Linked DNA regions of Homo sapiens: regions 2 and 3 are each linked to region 1. The links come from fine-mapping of genetic effects on gene expression. A gene starts in region 1. Each other region holds a variant in brackets. All regions are shown on one strand. Distances are between the middles of the regions. Region 1 holds the start of PLD3 (phospholipase D family member 3). Region 2 overlaps SPTBN4 (spectrin beta, non-erythrocytic 4). Region 3 overlaps PLD3 (phospholipase D family member 3).

Region 1 (7,956 bases):
GAGTTCAAGATCATATAGCAAGTAAAGGAAGCAGCAGGACTTGGACCCCACGCAGTCCAATGGCTATGGTTCATGCTGATTGAGGGATTACTACCAGCCAGGTACTATGGTCTGTTTTTCAATGTCTCAGTTAATGCTAACCAGAATCCTTTAAGTACTGGTATTCTCCCCCAAGTGCTACAGACCCTACTGAATTCAATTTCCTCTCTCCACAATCTTAAAAGCCCATCTCCAGCACTGACTTTCCGAATAGTGAAAATTATAATAGTGATTTTAAAGACAGCAGCTCCCAAAACTCAAGGGATTACCACATACCAGACTCCATGTGCTAAGCCCTTAGAAGACCTGTATCCAAATCCCAATTTTACCACGTCCTAATCCTGACTCTGGACAAGTAGCTTAACCTTTCTGACCTCACTTCCCTCAACTGCACAATAAGAATGGTAAGGCCGGGTACAGTAACTCACACCTGTAGTCCCAGCACTTTGGGAGGCCGAAGCAGGAGGATCTCTGGAGCCCAGGATTTTGAGGCCAGCCTGGGCAATATAGCGAGACCCTGTCACTGTTAAAAAAAAAAAAAAAAAAAAAAAAACTGGGCGTGGTGGCTCACGCCTGTAATCACAGCACTTTGGGAGGCTGAGGCGGGTGGATCACCTGAGGTCAGGAGTTCGAGACCAGCCTGGCCAATATGGTGAAACCCCATCTCTACTAAAAATACAAAAATTAGCCAGGCATGGTGGTGTATGCCTGTAATCCAAGCTACTCAGTAGGCTAAGGTGGGAGAATCGCTTCAACCCGGGGCGGGGGGGGGAGAGGTTGCAGTGAGCCAAGATTACGCCACTTCACTCCAGCCTGGGCAACAGAGCAAGACTCAGTCTCAAAAAAAAAAAAAAAAAAAGGAAAGGTGGCTGGGCGCAGTGGCTCATGCCTGTAATCCCAACGCTTTGGGAGGCCAAGGCAGTGGATCACAAGGTCAGGAGTTTGAGACCAGCCTGGCCAACATGGCGAAACTCCGCCTCTACTAAAAATACAAAAAATTAGCTGGGCATGGTGGCAGGCACCTGTAATCCCAGCTACTCGGGAGGCTGAGGCAGGAGAATCACTTGAACCCAGGAGGCAGAGGTTGCAGTGAGCCGAAACTGTACCACTACACTCCAGCCTGGGCAACAGAGTGAGACTCCATCTCAAAAAAAAAAAAAAAAGTAAGATTACCAATTCTTGGCCAGCACCTTGGGAGGCTGAGGCAGGTGGATAACCTGAGGTCAGGAATTCAAGACCAGCCTGGCCAACATAGTGAAACCCCTCTCTACTAAAAATACAAAAATTAGCCAGGCGTGGTGGTGGGCACCTGTAATCCTAGCTACTCAGGAGGCTGAGGCAGGAGAATTGCTTAAGCCCGGGAGGCAGAGGTTGCAGTGATCCAAGATCGCACCACTGCACTCCAGCCTGGGCAACAGAGCGAGACCTTGTCTCAAATAAATAAATAAATAAATAAATAAATAAATAAATAAATAAATAATAAAAATAAAAAAACACCATCTTAAAAAAAAAAAAAGAGGACCCTTTTTTTTTTTTGAGATGAAGTCCCACTCTGTCGCCCAGGCTGGAGTGCAGTGGCGTGATCTCGTCTCACTGCAACCTCTGCCTCCCAGGTTCAAGCAATTATCCTGCCTCAGCCTCCCAAGTAGCTGGGATTACAGGCCCCCACCACCATGCCCGGCTAATTTTCTGTAGTTTTAGTAGAGACGGGGTTTCACCGTGTTAGCCAGGATGGTCTCTATCTCCTGACCTCGTGATCCGCCCGTCTCGGCCTCCCAAAGTGCTAGGATTACAGGCGTGAGCCACCACGCCCAGCCAAGGACCCATTCTTAAAGGTGTTACAAGGATTAAACGAGTTAATAAACAGAGTCCTTAGAACAAAGATGCACGGCAGGTGGTTAAGTGCGATGTTAAGTGTGCATCAAATAAAACAAATCTTCAGTAAGCTAGGGAAACAGTGGGACAGTCACTGACTTAATGCTAGTTTTATACAAAGTGTGAGCTGGGAACAAGTATAAGGACAACTTAATGGGGGTCCATGGGATCTGACAACAGGGAATCACACAGTACAGGTTCTGAACAGTATCCCTATTCAAAGGGAATACGTAGTATTCCTTTTCAATTATCTTTCCATTTCAGTGTACAATGTAATGGGCTGTTCAGTTTCCATTGTATTTTACCTGAACTTTTCCTTCCTCTCATGGCCAGCAATGCTAGTTTTCCATTGAAGACAGCAATGCGCCGGGCACGGTGGCTCACACCTGTAATCCCAGCACTTTGGGAGGCAGAGGCGGGCAGATCACCTGAAGTCAGAAGTTCGAGACCAGCCTGACCAACATGCAGAAACCCCGTCTCTACTAAAATACAAAAAAAATTAGCCGGGCGTGGTGGCGCATGCCTGTAATCCCAGCTACTCGGAAGGTTGAGGCAGGAGAATCCCTTGAACCCAGGAAGCGGAGGTTGCGGTGAGACGAAATTGCACCATTGCACTCCAGCCTGGGCAACAAGAGCGAAACTCCGTCTCAAAGAAAAAAAAAAGAAGAAGACAGCAATGCAAATTTGCCTTCTCAAATTAACTTACTGGGGAAAAAAATGCACTAGTCATTATCAAGAAAAAGAAAAAAACTAGTACTTCAGGACTCAGCAAAATTGGTCAAATAGTAAGTGACAGGATGTCGATTTCCCCGGCTCCAATTCTAAGTTTTTCCTATTGCTGTCTCTGAGCTTTCTCCCCCAGCTTCCCTGGAATTCCCAGCTACACCAATGACTCTCAGAATCATTATCATTATAGTCCCAATCCACGAGCTCTCACTGTGCCAGCCCCTCTGCTTAAAATCTTTACACACACAGATTTCATCAGAATCCTCAAGACGACCCTATGATATTGGGACTATCTGCTCTCATTGTACAGATGAGAAAAAACGGGGTTCAAGGAAGCGAAGACACAGGCCCCACTGCCGCACAGTGGAGCGGGACTTGAACCAAAATTCGACGGCTTCCAAACCCAACAATTTTTCATACTAAGCGCTCAAACATCAATACTAATAATAATAGTATAGTAACGAAGTGAGCGTTATGCGGAGGCGCTGAGCTAAGGCATCCAACGTACACGACCTGACTTCTCACTCCCATTTATAAAGCCGGTGATACAGTCGGATTCTAACCCCCATTCCACAGGGGAGGAAACTGAGGCTCAAAGAAACAAATCGTAAGTCCGAAGCCGTACAACGGAGCCCGAACTGAGTCCAGACACCCGGACGCCACCCGTCCCTACCGCAACCGGCCCAGTCCCACCACCCCCGGCCCGCGCCTCACCTGGCCCACCGGGCCCGCGCCCACTCGCGCCGCCCGCCCTCCCTCCCGGCGGCGCCAACTGTCAGACACTCCTCCCCCGGCCCGGGCTGCCCGCCCCGGAAGCATCCTCTCACCGCCGGAAGCTGAACTGACTCGTCCGCGGCCGCTCTACCCCAACAGGCCGCCACCAGCGAGAGTGCGGCCATAACCATCACGTGACCGCCCACCGACACCAGCGAGAGTGCAGTCGTAACCGTCACGTGACCGCCCACCGTCGGCCCGGCGCTCCCCTCCGCCCGAAGCTAGCAAGCGGCGCGGCCAATGAGAAAGGCGCATGCCTGGCCCCCGCCGGCCTGCAGTCTAGCCGTAGTGCGCCTGCGCGCGGCTAGGAGGGGCCGTCAGGCGGGGATACAGCCTGGAAGGTGCGTGTGGGGCTGGGTCTCGGAGTGGGAGACGTGGAGTGCAGGTACTGTGCGATCTGGGGGCGCGGCGCCTCGGCTACCCTCCTCGTGTTGTCTTCCACGCTATAATGCATGGAATATAATATATATTATATGGAATATAATATATGGAATATAATATATATAATTATAGCGTTGTCTTCCACGCTATAATTTATGTCGTCCTCGGTCTCTTTATGTCACCATTCCTCTCCTTCTGTCTCATCCCACTTAAATCCTCACAACTCCTTCTGTCGCCATCACCCTCTTTAAATCCTCACAACTCCTCTTGTTGTCATCAACGCCCTTAACTCGCTTTCGTTCCCTGTAAGCCCTCTTTGCCACCATAGGTCGTAATCGCTCCCTTTAAATTCGTCATCGCCATATGTTACCTGCATCCTGCTTTTGTTGCCATTTCTCCTTTATAAAATCCTCATTTCTCTTTAAACCCTCATCATACCCCCAAGTCACCTTCGCATGGCTACTGTCCCCATCGCTCTTCTTAAATCGCGCTAATGCAACTCTTACGTCATCATTACCCCTTGTGTCTTTGTCCCTCCCTTGGCATCACTGTTCCTCTGACCAGTCACCATCCACTCCTCATGCTTCCAGTTTTCCCCATAAGGAGCCACCCAGCCTTACAGTTATTTTTCTTCCCTCCGTGTCTTCGTCATTTCCCCGTGTCACATCTCACATAACATACGGGGTACTGCAGCCCATTACCTGGGGTGTGTCAGAATCCCAGCCCCACCACTACACCTCTGGATACCTTGACTGCCTTATGGCACCTTTCCAATCCCAGCTTCATCTGCAAAATGCACACGGGGACATCCACATCAGGGCTGAGTGTGACGATTCTGTGAGTTTATTCTTGTGGTAGGCTCAGCTTGACATGGTGTTTTTGGCTAATATTGTTATTAACCATGTCACCCTCGGCCGGGTGCGGTGGCTCATGCCTGTAATCCCAGCACTTTAGGAGGCCAAGGTGGGCGGATCACCTGATGTCGGGAGTTCGAGACCAGCCTGATCAACATGGAGAAACCCCGTCTCTACTAAAAATACAAAATTAGCCGGGCGTGGTGGTGCATGCCTATAATCCCAGCTACTCGGGAGGCTGAGGCAGGAGAATGGCTTGAACCGGGGAGGTGGAGGTTGCAGTGAGCCGAGATCGCGCCATTGCACTCCAGCCTGGGCAACAAGAGCGAGACTCCGTCTCAAAAAAAAATAATAATAATAGGCCAGGCGCGGTGGCTCACGCCTGTAATCCCAGCACTTTGGGAGGCCGAGGCGGGCGGATCACCTCAGGTCGGAAGTTCGAGACCAGCCTGACCAACATGGAGAAACCCCATCTCTATTAAAAATACAAAATTAGCCAGGCATGGTGGCACATGCCTGTAATCCCAGCTACTCGGGAGGCTGAGACAGGAGAATCGTTCGAATCTGAGAGGCGGAGGTTGCAGTGAGCCTAGATCGTGCCATTGCACTGTAGCCTGGGCAACAAGAGCGAGACTCCGTCTCAAAAAAAAAAAAAAAAAAAAAAACTGCATGATCTTGGGCAACTAACTTAACCTCCCAGCGCCTCAGTTACTGCATCTGCAATATGGGAATGAAAACACAAATTAATCATTCTGCACATAATTCTTAAGCATGTACTATATATGTGCCCAACACTGCTAGACACTGGGGATACCTCAATGAACAATACAGACAAAAATATCTCGGCCTGGCGCAATGGCTCACACCTGTAATCCAAGCACTTTGGGAGGTGAAGTGGGTGGATCACCTGAGACCAGGAGTTTGAGACCAGCCTGGACAACATGGTGAAGCCCCATCTCTACTAAAAATGCAAAAATTAGCCAGGCATGGTGGCGCGCCCCTAAAATCTGAGCAACTCGGGAGGCTGAGGTGAGAGGATTGCTTGAACCCAGGAGGCGGAGGCTGCAGTGAGTTGAGATCGCACCACTGCACTCCAGCCTGGGTGACAGAGTGAGACCCCATCTCAAAAAAAAAAAAAAAATCTGGCCTTATGGACTGTGTACTACACTCTAGTGGGGGTAAGAGGCAATGGGTAAATAGGTAAGTAGATTATTGGATGTATTAGAAGGGGCATGGGGAATGTGGGGTCAAGGTTATAGTTTTAAATAGGGTGGTCAGGGAAAGCTTTCTGAGAAGGTGACATTTGAAACAAATACTTGAAGGAGAAGAGAGAGTAGGGCTGGGCACGGTGGCTCACGCCTGTGATCACAGCACTTTGGGAGGCTGAGGAAGGTGGATCGCTGGAGCTCAGGAGTTTGAGATCAGCCTGGGCAACATAGCGAAACCCCATCTCTACAAAAATTAGCCAGGTATGGTGGTGTGCGCCTGTGGTCCCAGCTACTTGGGAGGCTGAGAGGTGGGGGGATCGCTTGAGCCTGGGAGTTCGAGGCTGCAGTGAGCCATGATTTTGCCAATACACTCCAGCCTGGGCAACAGACGGAGACCCTGTCTCAAAACAAAAAAACAAAACAAAACAAAAAAACGGCCAGGCGTAGTGGCTCATGCCTATAATCCCAGCACTTTGGGAGGCCAAGGCTGGCAGATCACCTGAGGTCAGGAGTTCGAGACCAGCCTGACTAACATGGTGAAACCTCGTCTCTACTAAAATTACAAAAAATTAGGCAGGCATAGTGGCAGACACCTGTAATCCCAGCTATTCAGGAGGCTGAGGCAGGAGAATCGCTTGAACCAGGGAGGCGGAGGTTGCAGTGAACTGAGATTGCGCCATTGCACTCCAGCCTGGGCGACAGCGAGATTCTGTCTCAAAAAAAGAGAGAGAGAAAGAAAGAGTGACATGGCCCTCTGGGGGAACAGCATGCTGGGCAAAGAGAACAGCAAAAGCAAAAGTCTTGCGGTAGGAGCAAGCTTGGAATATTTAAGGAATAGCAAGGAGGTCAGTGAGAGAGGAGAGGGGCAAGAGACGACATTGGAGGGGTGATGGGGCACATCGTGGAAGGCCTTGTGAGCCATGCAGAAGGCTGGCTTTTACTCCCAGTGAGGTGGGTGCCACAGGAGGATGTGGAGCCGAGGAGGGATGCGGTCCAGTGTGACATGAAGCCATCACCCTGAGCTGTGGCAGCTCCAGAACTTCTACCCAGGATCGACTAGTGAGAGGCAGCCTTATTGGAAAGAGAGCCAGAATCTTCTTCAGTCCGCACTCACATATCCTTTATGTTGGGAGAAAGTTTCAAATATCCCTGTCAAAGATCGAGACCGGGCGTGGTGGTTCACGCCTATAATCCCAGCACTTTGGGAGGCTGAGGCGGGCGGATCACTTGAGGTCAGGAGTTCGAAACCACCCTGACCAACATGGTGAAACCTCATCTCTACCAAAATTATATAAAATTAGCTGGGCGTTGTGGCTTGTGCCTGTAATCCCAGCTACTCAGGAGGCTGAGGCAGGAAAATCGCTTGAACCCGGGAGGCAGAGGTTGCAGTGAGCCGAGATCACACCACTTCACTCCAGCCTGGGCAACAGAGCAAGACTCCATCTCAGATAAATAAATAAATAGTCATAAAATTTGAGGGCAGGCTAGGGAAATGCTAACGGAATTTTTGAGAGGCCGGCGCCACCACGGGGTTCAGCTGCTGTCCCAGACGGTGGGGGGCAGGCAGCAGGGGATCTACAGATGATGAACAACAGGAGAGGCAGCTGTCATGTGGCATCTGTCCCTGGAAGCTTGAGGCAGCTTGGGTTCAAATCCTTGCTCCATTTCCTCTCTCTTTTTTTTTAACCAAAGTCCAGTTCCAGGCTTACCACATATCCTATTTCTCTTTATACCTGTGACTTCACCTCTCTGGATCCTTAATTCCCTAAGTGGGATTTTTAAGAGGACTGTTGTGAAAATTAAATATATTAAGTCCAATTTAAAAAAATAAAACAAATATATTAAGTGCTTTGAGGCCAGGCACAGTGGCTTATGCCTGTAATCCCAGCACTTTGAGAGGTTGAGGTAGGCAGATCACTTGAGCCCAGCAGTTCAATAGCAGCCTGGGCAATGTGGTGAGATCCCAACTCTACAAAAAAATAAAAAACTAGCTGGGCATGGTGGCACACACCTGTGGTTCCAGCTACTCAGGAGGCTGAGGCGAGAGGATCACTTGAGCCCAGGAGTTCCAGGCTGCAGTGAGATGTGTTCCCACCACT
Region 2 (6,477 bases), 150 kb after region 1:
CGTGAGCCATCACACCTGGCTTACTTATTTATTTTTTTATCCAACTGAATTTAATATTTAAACCCTGTTTAATTATTATTATTATGTTTGAAATGGGGTCTCACTGTGTTGCCCAGGCTGGAGTGCAGTGGCACAATCTTGGCTCACTACAGCTTCAACCTCCTGTGCTCAAGCAATCCTCTCACCTCAGCCCCCAGAGTAGCTGGGGCTATAGGCGTGCACGACCATGCTCAGCTAATTTTTGATTTTTTTTTTTTTGGTAGAGGTGGGGTCTCGCTATGTTGCCCAGGCTGGTCTCAAACTACTGGACTCAAGCGATCCTCCCACCTTGGCCTCCCAGAGTGCCTGGGATTACAGGCCCGAGCCACATGCCTGGCTTAACCTGTCTTCCAAAGTGATGAGAATGACAGCTCAGGGATGTTGTCACTTGCCCAGCATCACACTGAAAATCAGGAAACCAGACCTTATGGCTCCAGAATTCATGGTCTTAATCAGTCCTCTACCCTGCCTCTTATAGCTGTATCCTGTGCTCAGTGCCTGGTACGTAGTAGGTGCTAATGGATGTCAGTTGGACAAGGCAGTGAAGAATAAAGGCCAGGTATACTGTTGTGCATCCAGTGGGTAAATTAAAATGATATCACTCAGTCATGGTGATGGCTTGTGCCTGTAATCCCAGCACTTTGGGAGGTTAAGGCAGGAGGATCGCTTGAGGCCAGAAGTTCAGGACCAGCCTGGGCAATGTAGTGAAATCCCATATCTACAAACCTGTAGTCCCAGCTACACAGGAGGCCAAGGCAGGAGGATCACTTGAGCCCAGGAGTTCGAGGCTGCAGTGAGCTCTGATTACAACACTGCACCCCAGATCCCAACTCAAAAAGCAAAAAACAACAACCAATTAAAGTGATGTTAGAATTTGTTGAGTTTCCCCTCTGTGCCAGGCTAGTCTTTCTAATACTTACATTGTTCCCAGGAGGCAGGAACCATGATAATCTTTATTATAACAATGGGGAAACTGAGGCTTAGAGAAGCTAGGTTATTTTCTAAGGACATGCAGTGAGTAAGTGTTGAACTGGGATCCAAGTGCATGCTGCCTCCAAAGCCTATGTTCTTGACATCAAGCCTTGTGCACAATTTGCAAGCTAACTAAATTTTAATTTAGCACCTACTGTGTGCTGGGTAAGACAGAACAGTGATAAAGAAGATAGGCATACGGCTGGGCCCACGCCTATAGTGGCCCACGCCTATAGTCCCAGCACTATGGGAAGCTGAGGCAGGAGTATTGTTTCAGCCCAAGAGTTCAAGACTAGCCTGGGCAACACAGAGAGACCCTGTCTATGTTTTATAAAAAATAAAAAGTCTATTTAAAAAATTACAAAAAATTAGCCGGGCGTGGTGGTGTGTGCCTGTAATCTCAGCTACTTGGGAGGCTGAGGCATGAGAATTGCTTGAACCTGGGAGGCAGAGGTTGTGGTGGGCCAAGATCACGCCATTGCACTCCAGCCTGGGCAATAGCTTGAGACTGTCTCAAAAAAAAAGAAAGAAAAAGAAAAGAAAGGAAAGGAAAGGAAAGGAAAAGAAAGGAAACAGGCATAGTGTTTGTCCTCATGAAGCTCAAGCTCTAGATAATGACATAATCACATAAGTGAATATGTAATTACAAATTGTGATACATTCTGGGAAGGACATCATAAGATGCTAAGAGGAGAATAACATGAGGATTATCAACTATAGACAGAGTGAACATGGAGGCTTGTCTAAGGAAATTTGAGTTGAGCCAGGCATGGTGGTTCACACCTTTAGTTCTGACTACTCAGGAGGCTGAGGTGGGAGGATTGCTTGAACCTAGGAGCTCGAGGCTGCAGTGAGCTATGATTGCACCACTGCACAATCAGCCTGGACAAGAGAGCCAGACTCCATCTCTTGAAAAAAAAAAAAGTAAAAAGTTGAGCTCTGAAGAATAAGTGGGAATTAGGAACACAGAAGAGGAACAGTGCTCCAGACAGTGAGAACAGCACATGCAAAGGCCCTGAGGTGGAAGGTAGAAAGGTGTGTTCAAGAAACAAATATAGGCCAGGTGCGGTGGCTCACATCTGTAATCCCAGCACTTTGGGAGGCCGAGGTGGGCGGATCACCTGAGGTCAGCAGTTCGAGACCAGCCTGACCAACATGGTGAAGCCCTGTCTCTACTGAAAATATAAAATTAGCCAGGCATGGTGGTGCATGCCCATAACCCCAGCTACTTGGGAGGCTGAGACAGAAGAATCACTTGAACCTGGGAGGTAGAGGTTGCAGTGAGTTGAGATCGTGCCATTGCACTCCAGCCTGGGCAACAAGAGCAAAATTCCATCTTAAAAAAAAAAAGAAAAGAAAAAGAAAAGTATAGCTTATTTCTCTGCGGTGGTTTATATGTGTCAGGCACTATTTAATTCCAGGAGGTAGATTTCTATTTGACGGATACAAAACCTGAGGAACAGAGAGGTTAATTATCTTGCCCAAGGTCACACAGCTAGTGAGAGTGGCTTCTCCATCCCTCCATCCAATACCTTCAAGCACTCTGTCAAAGTGCCCACTGTCTTGTTTCCCCACTCCCTCTTGCTTCCAGATGTGAACATGGAGGCTCCAGATGAGAAGTCCATCATCACCTACGTGGTCTCTTTCTACCACTATTTCTCCAAGATGAAGGCTCTGGCTGTGGAGGGGAAGCGTATCGGGAAGGTATAAGGAGCCAAGGAGTGGGTGAGTGGGAAGCTGGAAGCTGGTGGCAGGCACGGGTGGGATGAGGCTGACCCCCCTTCCTCTGCTGTGTCAGGTCTTGGACCAGGTATTGGAGGTGGGGAAGATCATAGAACGCTACGAGGAGCTGGCGGCTGAGCTGCTGGCCTGGATCCACCGCACCGTGGGCCTCATCAGCAATCAGAAATTTGCCAACTCCTTAAGTGGGGTGCAGCAGCAACTCCAGGCTTTCACGGCCTATTGCACGCTGGAGAAGCCTGTCAAGTGAGGCCCAGCTCTGGAGGGAGGGTGGGCAGGGGTGGCATGACGGCAGGGCTCCTGAGCTCATGCCCCTTCAGGTTCCAGGAGAAGGGGAACCTAGAGGTGCTGCTCTTCAGCATCCAGAGCAAACTGCGTGCCTGCAACCGTCGCCTCTTTGTGCCTCGGGAGGGCTGTGGCATCTGGGATATTGACAAGGTGAGGCCGGGGATGCAGGGGAGAGGCGGGGTTGCACTGTGGAGTTGTATAGGTTGCACACTGCTCAAGGGAATCATTCACATTGTAGACATGATGGATTAGATATTCATTCTGACAGTTTTTCAGTAGTAAAGTGTCATAAGGAAGCAATATTTTTTCCAATTTGCATGAAGTTGCCATAATGCTATGAGTGACCTCAGACTAAGTCAAGACCATTAAACTGTGGGGAGCTGTCAGAGTCTGAGTGCCTCCTCCCATCTCCTGCAGGCATGGGGTGAGCTGGAGAAGGCTGAGCATGAGCGGGAGGCTGCCCTACGGGCTGAGCTGATTCGGCAGGAGAAGCTGGAACTACTGGCACAGAGGTTTGACCACAAGGTGGCTATGAGGGAGAGCTGGCTGAATGAGAACCAGCGTCTGGTCTCCCAGGTACAAGGTGTAGGGCTTGGCTCCAGGGTAAAGGGACGGAGGGCGGGGCTGATGGTCCTGGGACCAGAGAGGGAGACTTGATCTTCTAGGCAACAGGGAAGAGTTAGATTAGTCTCCTGGTGATAAATGAGGATGGGGATGGGAGACTTGGCCTTCCAAGTGATTGTTGGGTGAGGGGAATGGGCCTGATCTCCAGGGTAATGGGAGAGTGAGGCTGGTCTCCAGGGTAACTAGAGAGGGCAGAATTCATCTTTTCAGGAATGGGGGAGTGTTTTAAGTGACAAGGGAGGTTGTATCTTGTGTCTAGGGTAACTCAGAAGGATAGAATTGGTTTCCTAAGTAACAGAGTCAGGTAAACCTGGTCCCTAATCTCCAGGACAGGGGAAGCATGGGCCTCCTTCCTG[G/A]GTAACAAGTTTAAGGTTAGAGATGTAACAGGAGGGTGGGACTTGTTTCCAGGGTAACTGGAGAGAGTGGGGCTGGTCTCTGGGGAAACGGGAAGGTGGGGTTGGTCTCTAGGGCAACAGGGGAGGGTGGGTCTGGTCTCCAGGGTAACTGGGGAAGATTGGGCTGGTCTCCAGGACAACAGGGGAGGGTGGAGCTGGTCTCCAGGATAACTGTGGAAGATGGGCTGGTCTCCAGGGCAACAGGGGATGGGGGGTTGGTCTTTAGGGTAACTGGGGAGGGTGGGGCTGGTCTCCAAGGTAACAATGGAGGGTGGGGCTGGTCTCCAGGTTACCTGGGTAACAGGGGAGGATGAGGCTGGTCTCCAGGATAACTAGGGAGGGCAGGGCCAGTCTCCAAGGTAATGGAGTGGGGAGTCCCCAGGGTCACACAGGGTCAAGGTAACAGGTGGACTGCTGAGGCAGCATGGGTGAGTGTCTGGCTCACTGCCCCAGGACAACTTTGGGTATGAGCTGCCCGCAGTGGAGGCAGCCATGAAGAAACACGAAGCGATCGAGGCAGACATTGCGGCCTACGAGGAGCGGGTGCAGGGTGTGGCGGAGCTGGCCCAGGCATTGGCAGCCGAAGGCTACTACGATATCCGGCGGGTGGCAGCCCAGCGTGACAGCGTCCTGCGCCAGTGGGCCCTGCTAACTGGGCTTGTGGGTGCCCGGCGGACACGACTTGAGCAGAACCTTGCCCTGCAGAAGGTCTTCCAGGAGATGGTGTACATGGTGGACTGGATGGAGGAGATGCAGGTGCCGGCGGGGGGGCGGGGATGCGGGTGGAGTGCCAGGAGGGAGGGGAGGATGCAGACGCTGAAAGAGTTGTCAGACAGCTGGAGATGGAGAGGGAAGGGCAGAGATAGAAGAAGATAGAGAGAAAGCCAGGGAGACAAAAAGAGAGAACAAGAGAGAGAGGGAGAGAAAGATACAGAGATGGACAAGAGAGGCAGACAAAGAAACACAGAATGAGAAAGAGACAGAGACAAATAGAGAGAAATAGAAACATGCTGGACACGGTGGCTCACACCTGTAATACCAGCACTTTGGGAGGCCAAGGAGGGCAGATCACTTGAGGTCAGCAGTTTCAGACCAGCCTGGCCAACATGGTGAAACCCCATCTCTACTAAAAATACAAAACAATTAGCCGGGCGTAGTGGCGGGCGCCTGTAGTCCCAGCTACTTGGGAGGCTGAGGCAGGAGAATGGCGTGAACCCGGGAGGCGGAGCTTGCAGGGAGCCGAGATCCCGCCACTGCACTCCAGCCTGGGCGACAGAGCGAGACTCCGTCTCAAAAAAAAAAACAAAAAAAACAAAAAACAATTAGCTGGGCGTGGTGGCGTGTGCCTGTAGTCCTAGCTATTTGGGAGGCTGAGGCTCAAGAATTGCTTGAATCCAGGAGGCAGAGGCTGCAGTAAGCCAAGGTGGTGCCACTGCACTCCATCCAGCCTGAGTGACAGAGTTTGATTCTGTTTCAAAAAAAAAGAGAGAAATGAAAAAAGACATAGAGATATAGAAACAGAGTAAACCAGGGATGCAGACAGAGAGATAGTGACAGTTTGAGAGAGAGGAAATCAGAGAGACAGAGAGAGGAGAAGGCAGACACAAAGGTGACATGGAAATCTACATGACTACAGAGAAAGATACAGGAAGATGGAATCAATTTAAGAGAGAGAGAGAGAGACCTACCAGATCTAGAGAGAGATGAGACAAGAAAGATAGAAGCCAGCTGGGCATGGTGGCTCTCACCTGCGGTACCAGCACTTTGGGAGGCCGAGGTAGGCAGATTGCTTGAGCCCCAGAGTTTGAGACCAGCCTGATCAACATAGTGAGATCCTGTCTGTACAAAAAAAAAAAAAAAAAAAATTAGCTAGGCGTGGTGGTGTGCGCTTGTAGTCCCAGCTACTCTGAAGTGGGAGGATCGCTTGAGCCCAGGAGGTTGAGGCTGTGTGAGCCATGATTGCACCACTACACTTCAACCTGGATGACAGAGTGAGACCCTGTCTCAAAAAAAAAAAAAAAAAAAAAAGAAGAAGCCGGGCACGGTGGCTCACACCTGTAATCCCAGCACTTTGGGAGGCTGAGGCAGGCAGATCATCTGAGGTCAGGAGTTCAAGACCAGCCTGGCCAACATGGCGAAACCCCATCTCTACTAAAAAATACAAAAATTAGCCGGGCGAAGTACATCTAATCGGGAGGCAGGAGAATCACTTGAACCTGGGAGGTGGAGTTTGCAGTGAGCTGAGATCGCGCCACTGCACTCCAGCCTGGGTGACAGAGGCAGACTCTGTCTCAAAAAAAGAAGAAGAAAAAAGAATGAAAGGGAGGAAGGAAGGAAGGAAGGAAGGAAGGAAGGAAGGAAGGAAGGAAGGAAGGAAGAAAGAAAGGTGAACAGGAGACACAGACAGGAAGGTGAACAG
Region 3 (7,956 bases), 31 kb after region 1:
CCCACTGCAACATCCAGGTGGATGATGGCACTTGTGGGGCTCAAAGAAGGTATTCTAGGGGCAGTAGATAAGACAGTGGGTCCAGGCATGGTGGCTCACGCCTGTAATCCCAACACTTTGGGAGGCCGAGGCGGAAGGATCCCTAGGAGTTTGAGACCAGCCTGGGCAACATAATGAGACCCCGTCTCTATAGAAAAATTGGAAGATTAGCCCAGTGCGGTGGCACTCACCTGCAGTCCCAGCTACTCAGGAGACTGAGGCAGGAGGATCACTTGAGCCCAGGAGTTGGAGGCTGCATTGAGCTATGGTCGTGCCACTACACTCCAGCCTGGGTGATAGAGCAAGAACCTGTCTCAAAAAGAAAAAAAAGAGGATGGACCGGGCACAGTGGCTCACGCCTGTAATCCCAGCACTTTGGGAGGCCAAGGCGGGCAGATCACCTGAGGTCGGGAGTTCGAGACCAGCCTGACAAACATGGAGAAACCCCGTCTCTACTAAAAATACAAAATTAGCCAGGCGTGGTAGCGCATGCCTGTAATCCTAGCTACCCGGGAGGCTGAGGCAGGAGAATCGCTTGAACCCAGGAGGCAGAGGTTGCAGTGAGCCGAGATTGTGCCATTGCACTCCAGCGTGGGCAACAAGAGCGAAATTCCACCTCAAAAAAAAAAAGAAAGAATAAAAGAGGATGACAACACTGGGTTTTGGGGAGCAGGAATGGGAGCCACAGCCAGGAAGAGGAAATAGGGATGTGGGATTTATGGAGACAGGAACAGGGTCTGGGAGCCAGCGATGAGGAAGTCCTCTCAATAGCTAAAGCAGGGCCCAGGCTTGGTTCCCCAAAGCTGAGGGCAAAGCCTGTGGACACAGCCGCCCTCTGCATCCTGCCCCACCTCCTATACACCCGTCCTCAGGTTCTGGCCTGCCATTGACGATGGGCTGCGGCGGGCCACCTACGAGCGTGGCGTCAAGGTGCGCCTGCTCATCAGCTGCTGGGGACACTCGGAGCCATCCATGCGGGCCTTCCTGCTCTCTCTGGCTGCCCTGCGTGACAACCATACCCACTCTGACATCCAGGTGGTAAGTACTGCCCCAAGCCACCCCTTGGCCCCTGTGTGGGGCAGTCCTAGGGACACAGCCCTCATGGGACTCGTCTGTCAATGACAAGGGCAGCCCAGAGTGAGCCCTGTCACTGTGGGGAAACCATGGGTCAGGGCCAGGGTCATGGGGCACAGGGAGAGGGGCCAGGACCGGGATGAGGGGGCACAGGCAGAGGGGTTGGGACCGGGATGGGGGTGCAGAGAGAGGTGTTGGGACCAGGAATGGGGACATGGGCAGGTAGAGGGGTCAGGGCTGGGATTGGGAGCACAGGCAGAGGGGTCAGGGCTGGGATGGGGAGGCACAGGCAGAAGGGTCGGGGCCGGGTTGGAGGGCACAGAGAGAGGGGTTAGGGCCAGGGTTGGGGGCACAGGCAGAGGGGTCGGGGCCAGGATGGAGGAGGCCCAGGCAGAGGGGTGAGGGCTGGGGTGGGGGGCACAGAGAGAGGGTTTGGGACCAGGACTGGGGGAGTGGGCAGGTAGAGGGGTCGGGGCTGGGGTTGGGGGCACAGGCAGAGGGGTCAGGGCTGGGATGGAGGAGGTACAGGCAGAGGGGTCAGGGCTGGGATGGGGGGGCACAGGCAGAGGGGTCAGGGCTGGGATGGAGGAGGCCCAGGCAGAGGGGTCAGGGCCAGGGTCGGGGGGCACAGGCAGAGGGGTCAGGGCTGGGGTGGGGATGCCCAGAGGAAGCCTCTGCCCTAGCGGGAAGGGCCAAGGAAGATGTTCTGGAAATGGGGGCATCTGAGATGAGACCTCAGGAATGAACAGGAGCCATTCTGCCGGGAACAGTGTTTTGCAAATGAGACCACCGGGGCCTCCCTTTCAGCTTTCGTTCTCAGAGGGCCCCTCCACCTGGCCCTGTTCTGGCCCCCGAGGATTCTGTGGGAAGCAGTGGAGTCCCACAGATCTCGCTCCACACTCTGCTCCCTGATCCCGGGGCTCCTCCGACTCCCCCTGCCTCTCACACTCCTTCCCATCCTCCCCTCCCACTCAGAAACTCTTTGTGGTCCCCGCGGATGAGGCCCAGGCTCGAATCCCATATGCCCGTGTCAACCACAACAAGTACATGGTGACTGAACGCGCCACCTACATCGGTGAGTGTCTTGAGCACCACGGGGCGCTGAAGAAGAGGGGGTTCAGACACCAGGGGCGGCCCCCCGAGGGTGCCCTTATGCTCCACCCATTCCTCTCTAGGAACCTCCAACTGGTCTGGCAACTACTTCACGGAGACGGCGGGCACCTCGCTGCTGGTGACGCAGAATGGGAGGGGCGGCCTGCGGAGCCAGCTGGAGGCCATTTTCCTGAGGGACTGGGACTCCCCTTACAGCCATGACCTTGACACCTCAGCTGACAGCGTGGGCAACGCCTGCCGCCTGCTCTGAGGCCCGATCCAGTGGGCAGGCCAAGGCCTGCTGGGCCCCCGCGGACCCAGGTGCTCTGGGTCACGGTCCCTGTCCCCGCGCCCCCGCTTCTGTCTGCCCCATTGTGGCTCCTCAGGCTCTCTCCCCTGCTCTCCCACCTCTACCTCCACCCCCACCGGCCTGACGCTGTGGCCCCGGGACCCAGCAGAGCTGGGGGAGGGATCAGCCCCCAAAGAAATGGGGGTGCATGCTGGGCCTGGCCCCCTGGCCCACCCCCACTTTCCAGGGCAAAAAGGGCCCAGGGTTATAATAAGTAAATAACTTGTCTGTACAGCCTGTGCCTGACTGAGTGGTGTGAGATGGGGTGCAGGGGTAGGGGACAGCTGGCATGGGCCTCTGGTGGGGACATCTTTTTGTGCTGAGCCCTCAACATGTCACTGGCATGTGCTGAGCCCTCAGTGTGTGACCAGTGTGGGTTAGCATGTACTGAGCCCTCAGCATGTGCTGGCATGGGTTGGCATGTGCTGAGCCCTTAACATGTAGTGTACATGGGCTGACCTGTGCTGAGCATGCAGCGTGCCACCCTGTGGCCCGGCATGGACTTAGCACTCATGTAGCCAGCATGGGTATGTGCTGCAGAGAAGCATGTTCCCAGATTGATCAGCAGGGACCAAACCATTGCCACATCCCAAGGGTGAACAAGCATGGCTGAGCACCAGAGTGTGCACCAAGTGTGAATTTAGGCCTGCCAAGTGGATTTACACCCAGCACGTCCCAAATGTGGGTGAGTGCATGCCAACCCTGTAAACATGTAGGAAGGACAGGTCAACAGACAAGGAGACCCCAGCATCCGGCAAACTTGATTAACACATACTGAACACAGCATGTTCTGAGGGTGGATTCCCAACACGCCAAGCACATAGCGTATTTAGGACAAGGGTTAGTCAACCAAGCACAGCTTTTCCCTCCTAGTGTGACAGCAGCCCAGGCTCCCGCCTAAGCCAGTGGTCA[A/G]CTGGGCCCAGCATCGCAGAGCAAGTCACTGGGTGCCAGCCTGGAGCCCCCATTCCCCCCAGGGCCAGTCCAAGCCCCAGGCAGTGAGAGCAGGCTTGAAGCAGGACTGCTGAACAGTTCTATATTGAAATAGACAGAGGCAGCAGGGCCAAGGGCGAGCGCAGGGCCAGCGGGGTGCAGCCCCCTTTCCTGCTGTCCTTCTGGCCAAGGAGCATGGGCCAGACTCCAAAGCCCTGCTGTGTTTAGGAGAGGTGTGCAGGCACGCACCGCACCGCAGACGGGGAATGAGAATTTCTGGATAACTATCTTTCTGTAAGAATAATTTGTGGGTTCAGGAGATGGCTCTGAGGAGCAGTTCAGGTTGGGAGGGAATGCCAGCCCAGCTAGCGCAGCCCCCAGTGATGGGCAGGGGTGGAATCACCATCAGTGGTGCCCGGTGACATGCTGGAGGAAGCTGGTGGCCCCCCGGGGTGGACCATGCTGGTGGGAGCGGCGGGGTGGGAGCCCCTGAGCCCGTGGGCCCCTGACGCTCTCCAGGGTGCAGTCTGGCTCACTCAGCCATTCTCCAGGACAGCTGCTGGGGTCGAAGAGCTCAGGGTCTGGCCTCTGTGGGGGAAGAGAGAGGGGCATCAGCCAAGCAGTGTTAGTGTATTAGTGTCTGCTGAGCCTCTGTCACCTCCTCCTGATGAGGGTGAGCATGTGCTAGGGTCTTACCAGTGCTGGGCCTTTATTGCCCCTTTGTAGTGATGTGATGACAGCTCACTGCAGCCTCGACCTCCCTGGCTCAAGTGATCCTCCCACCTCAGCCTCCTGAGTAGCTGGGACTACAGGTGCATGCCACCAAAACCAGCTAATATTTCTAATTTTTTGGTGCAGACGGGATCTCACTATGTTGCCCAGGCTCTTTATCAAGCTTCTTATAAGTAGATTACTGTGCCCTGAGTTTTTGTCACAGCCTGGAAGTAGCTGAGTAAGTGCTGAGCCTTATCATATCTTGACGGTATTAGGTGTGTGCTGAGCCTCCTAAGTCCCTAATTGTATCCTGAACATGGGTGAGTGTGTGTTGAGCCTCCTCACACACTAATCATATCCTGAGCACGGGTGAGTGTGTGCTGAGCCTCCTCCCACCCTAATCGTATCCTGAACGCACCCGGCTCACCTCAGCTTCCATGGTCATGTTGTCAATGTTGGGCCCATCCTCATCTCGCTGCAGGATGGCCAGTGGCTCAGCAGAGGCCCCGAGATGCTCTCCTTCCTCCCAGCTGCTGCCCCGGCAGGGCCTGTCATCCTCAGGCGAGACCTGGCTCAGCCGAATGAGGTTGCTGAAGTTGGAGTCGGACTTGGAACCCGCAGGTGGCTTGCGGGCCTTGTGGCGGCCTGCCAGGCGGCTGCTGTAGAAGGCCAGGATGGGCTCAGGGCCCGAGTCGGGCACATGGTGGCCAGTGATGGCTGCCTTGAGGGGGACCATCATGTCGGAGACCGCATTGGTGCAGGTCTCACCCCACAGCCCATGCCCAGCCTCCTGCAGACTCAGGTCATCCAGCTGGTCGATGGCTCTTTGCATACCTGGTGCCTTCTCCTCTCGGAAGAAGGGGCTGCTGCCGGCCACACTGCCCATACCCGCAGCCTCCTTCTCCTCAGCCAGACAGTAGTAGGGGGTCCCATCTTCTGCGGCCACGACGGGCGTGGGGGGCTTCCCCTCCACTTGCAGCGAGAGGCGGTAGCTGCGCAGCGAGAGCTGGTAGTAGTGGGTGGTCTCGTGGGCACTGCGCAGCTGCTGCATGGACACGAAGGGGTGGCGCAGGGCAGCACTGGGGCTGATGCGTTCGTGTGACTCCCAGGTCAGCATGCGCTTGATCAGCTCCACCATGCTCTTGAGGTCGGCGTGCTCCGCCAGCGCCTCCCGGTCAGGGAAGGTTAGCCGACTGGCCACACTGCCACCATTCACTGTCTCAATCTGGTCCAACGACTTGAGCATATACTTGCGGCGCTCCAATGGGCGCACCTGGCGGGGCATGGAGAAGGGGGCAGGGTTGACCATTGTGCAGGGCTAGGGCCCTGGGCACTCCTGCTGTGGCACCCACATGTAGCCCCGACTTCCAGGTCTGCCCATGATCTGCCTTGGAGCTCTCTGGCTGCTAGGAGGGCCACCCTGGATCCGTCACACCCAAGCCCCTCTAATCGAACCCAAATCACTGGCCCAAGTTCCACCCCTTGCCCCAGACCTCCAGTCCCCTTCAGCACCATGGGTGCAGCCCCTACCAGCAGCTAGCAGAAGGGCTGCCCGGAATCTCTAGTCCTCCCTGGAATCAAATCCAGGTCCCTCTTACTGCCACAGCTCCACACTTGATCCCAGGCCTCCTGGTGGTCAAACCCAGACCCTTCTTGCTATAGTAGTTTGTCACCCCCTGCTATTAAACTGCCATTGACTTTTAGTCTCACCTGTGGTCCCATCCAGACCCTTCTTGCTGTGAAATCAAGACCTATGACCTCAAACTCCTAGTCCCCTCTGCTGTCTAACCCAGGCTCTTGCTGCACAGATGGGAGGGGCAAAGCCACAGAGGTAGCAGACTGGCTGCTGCCCCAAACCTCTAGACTCACCTGAGGTCTCACTCAGATCCTTTTTTTTTTTTTTTTTTTTTTTTTTTTGTATGTGTGTGAGACAGAGTTTCACTCTTGTTGCCCAGGCTGGAGTGCAGTGGTACAATCTCGGCTCACTGCAACCTCCACCTCCCAGGTTCAAGCGATTCTCCTGCCTCAGCCTCCTGAGCAGCTGGAATTACAGGTGTCCACCACCATGCCCAGCTAATTTTTGTATTTTTAGTAGAGATGGGGTTTCACCATGTTGGCCAGGCTGTTCTCGAACTCCTGACCTCAGGTGATCCACCCACCTCGGCCTCCCAAAGTGCTGGGATTACAGGTGTGAGCCACTGTGCCTGGCCTTAGATCCTTTTTTTTAAACAGGGTCTTGCTGTGTCGCCCAGACTGGGGTGTAGTGGTGCAATCATAGCTCACTGCAACTGCCAACTCCTGGGTTCAAGTGATCTTCCCACCTCAGCCTCCCAAGTAGCTTGGAACTACCGGTGTGTGCCACCATGCCTGGCTAAATTTTAAAAAAAATTTTTTCTAGAGACACGGTCTTGCTATGTCGCCCACAATGACTTCAAGTGATCCTCCTGCCTTGGCCCCCACCAAAGTGCGTGGACTACAGGCATAAGCCACTGCACCTGGCCTCTCTCGCAATTCTCATAGCCAATCTCAGACCTCATATATTCTCTGTGGTCTAATCCCTCTTGCCACACAAGTTGCTGACCCCGGAGCTGAAGCTGGCAGAGAAGCTGCCCCAATCGTCCTGTCACACTTATAGTATGACCCAGATCTCTCTTGCTAGAGCAGCCCCCACATCTGACTTCCAAACATCTAATTCTCCCTGCAGTTTCTCCCCCAGATCTATCTTGCTGCAGTTGCTGACCAGTCCCACATTTGATCTCATGCAGCTCTTTCTTGCTGTGAAAATGCCCTAGGCTGACCCCCAAGTTCCAGTCCTCATTGAGGTTTAGCCCAGAAATTTTTTTTTTCAATTATTAAAAAAATATTTTTTTGGCCGAGCGCGGTGGCTCATGCCTGTAATCTCACTGCTTTGGGAGGTCGAGGTGGGTGGATCACGAGGTCGGGTGTCTGAGACCAGCCTGGCCAACATGGTAAAACCCCGTCTCTAGTAAAAATACAAAAAAATTGCCGGGTGTGATGGTGGGTGCCTGTAAGCCCAGCTACTCAGGAGGCTGAGGCAGGAGAATCTCTTGAACCTGGGAGGCAGAGGTTGCAGTGAGCTGAGACCGCACCACTGCACTCCAGCCTGAGCAACAGATCAAGACTCCGTCTTAAAAAAAAAAGAAAAAAATATTTTTCTTTTCTTTCTTTTTTTTTTTTTTTTTTTGAGACGGAGTCTCACTCTGTTGCCCAGGCTGGAGTGCAGTGGTGGGATCTCGGCTCACTGCAACCTCCGCCCTCTGGGTTCAAGCGATTCTCCTGCCTCAGCCCGCCGAGTAGCTGGAATTACAGGCGTCTGCCACTGCGCCCAGCTAATTTTTTGTGTTTTTAGTAGAGACTGGGTTTCATCATCTTGGCCAGGCTGGTCTTGAACTCCTGACCTCGTGATCCACCCACCTCGGACTCCCAAAGTGCTGGGATTACAGGCGTAAGCCACCACACCCAGCCTCTGTTTTTTGTTCTTTTCACTCCATTCTTCTGGTCTGATAGATTTTTCTTTTTGAAACAGAGTCTTGCTCTGTCACCCAGGCTCAAGTGTAGTGGCATGATCATAGTTCACTGTAGCCTGGACCTCCCAGGCTCAAGGAATTCTCCTGCCTCAGCCTCCCATGTATCTGGGACAATAGGCCCATACCACCGTGCCCAGCTGATTTTTTTTTCCATGTTTTATAAAGAGGAGGTCTCACTATGTTCCCCAGGCTGGTCTCAAACCCCTAGGC

What was found. PIP is the estimated chance that this variant, and not a neighbour inherited with it, causes the effect.
Region 2: its variant is the best candidate, but not a certain one, in a credible set for the expression of PLD3 in whole blood (INTERVAL, PIP 0.89).
Region 3: its variant is the best candidate, but not a certain one, in a credible set for the expression of PLD3 in sigmoid colon (GTEx, PIP 0.77).

The regions. Positions count from the first base shown.
Region 1 is chr19:40,344,970-40,352,925 of GRCh38, forward strand. It overlaps PLD3 (phospholipase D family member 3), which reads left to right and starts at 3,726. Exons shown (of 13, transcript NM_012268.4): 1 at 3,726-3,799. C19orf47 (chromosome 19 open reading frame 47) reads right to left here and starts at 3,428. Exons shown (of 9, transcript NM_001256441.2): 1 at 3,355-3,428. RefSeq lists a silencer at 3,303-3,392 and an enhancer at 3,383-3,672.
Region 2 is chr19:40,499,319-40,505,795 of GRCh38, forward strand. It overlaps SPTBN4 (spectrin beta, non-erythrocytic 4), which reads left to right. Exons shown (of 36, transcript NM_020971.3): 8 at 2,603-2,715; 9 at 2,810-2,997; 10 at 3,072-3,189; 11 at 3,457-3,615; 12 at 4,512-4,814. Among named protein-coding and RNA genes, the nearest start is that of SPTBN4, 36 kb to the left of the region's middle. The variant G/A (reference allele first, on the strand shown) is at 4,020.
Region 3 is chr19:40,375,698-40,383,653 of GRCh38, forward strand. It overlaps PLD3 (phospholipase D family member 3), which reads left to right. Exons shown (of 13, transcript NM_012268.4): 11 at 912-1,077; 12 at 2,089-2,188; 13 at 2,289-2,788. The coding sequence ends at 2,476. HIPK4 (homeodomain interacting protein kinase 4) reads right to left here. Exons shown (of 4, transcript NM_144685.5): 3 at 4,626-5,471; 4 at 3,574-4,072. The coding sequence ends at 3,890. Among named protein-coding and RNA genes, the nearest start is that of MIR6796, 9.8 kb to the left of the region's middle. The variant A/G (reference allele first, on the strand shown) is at 3,467.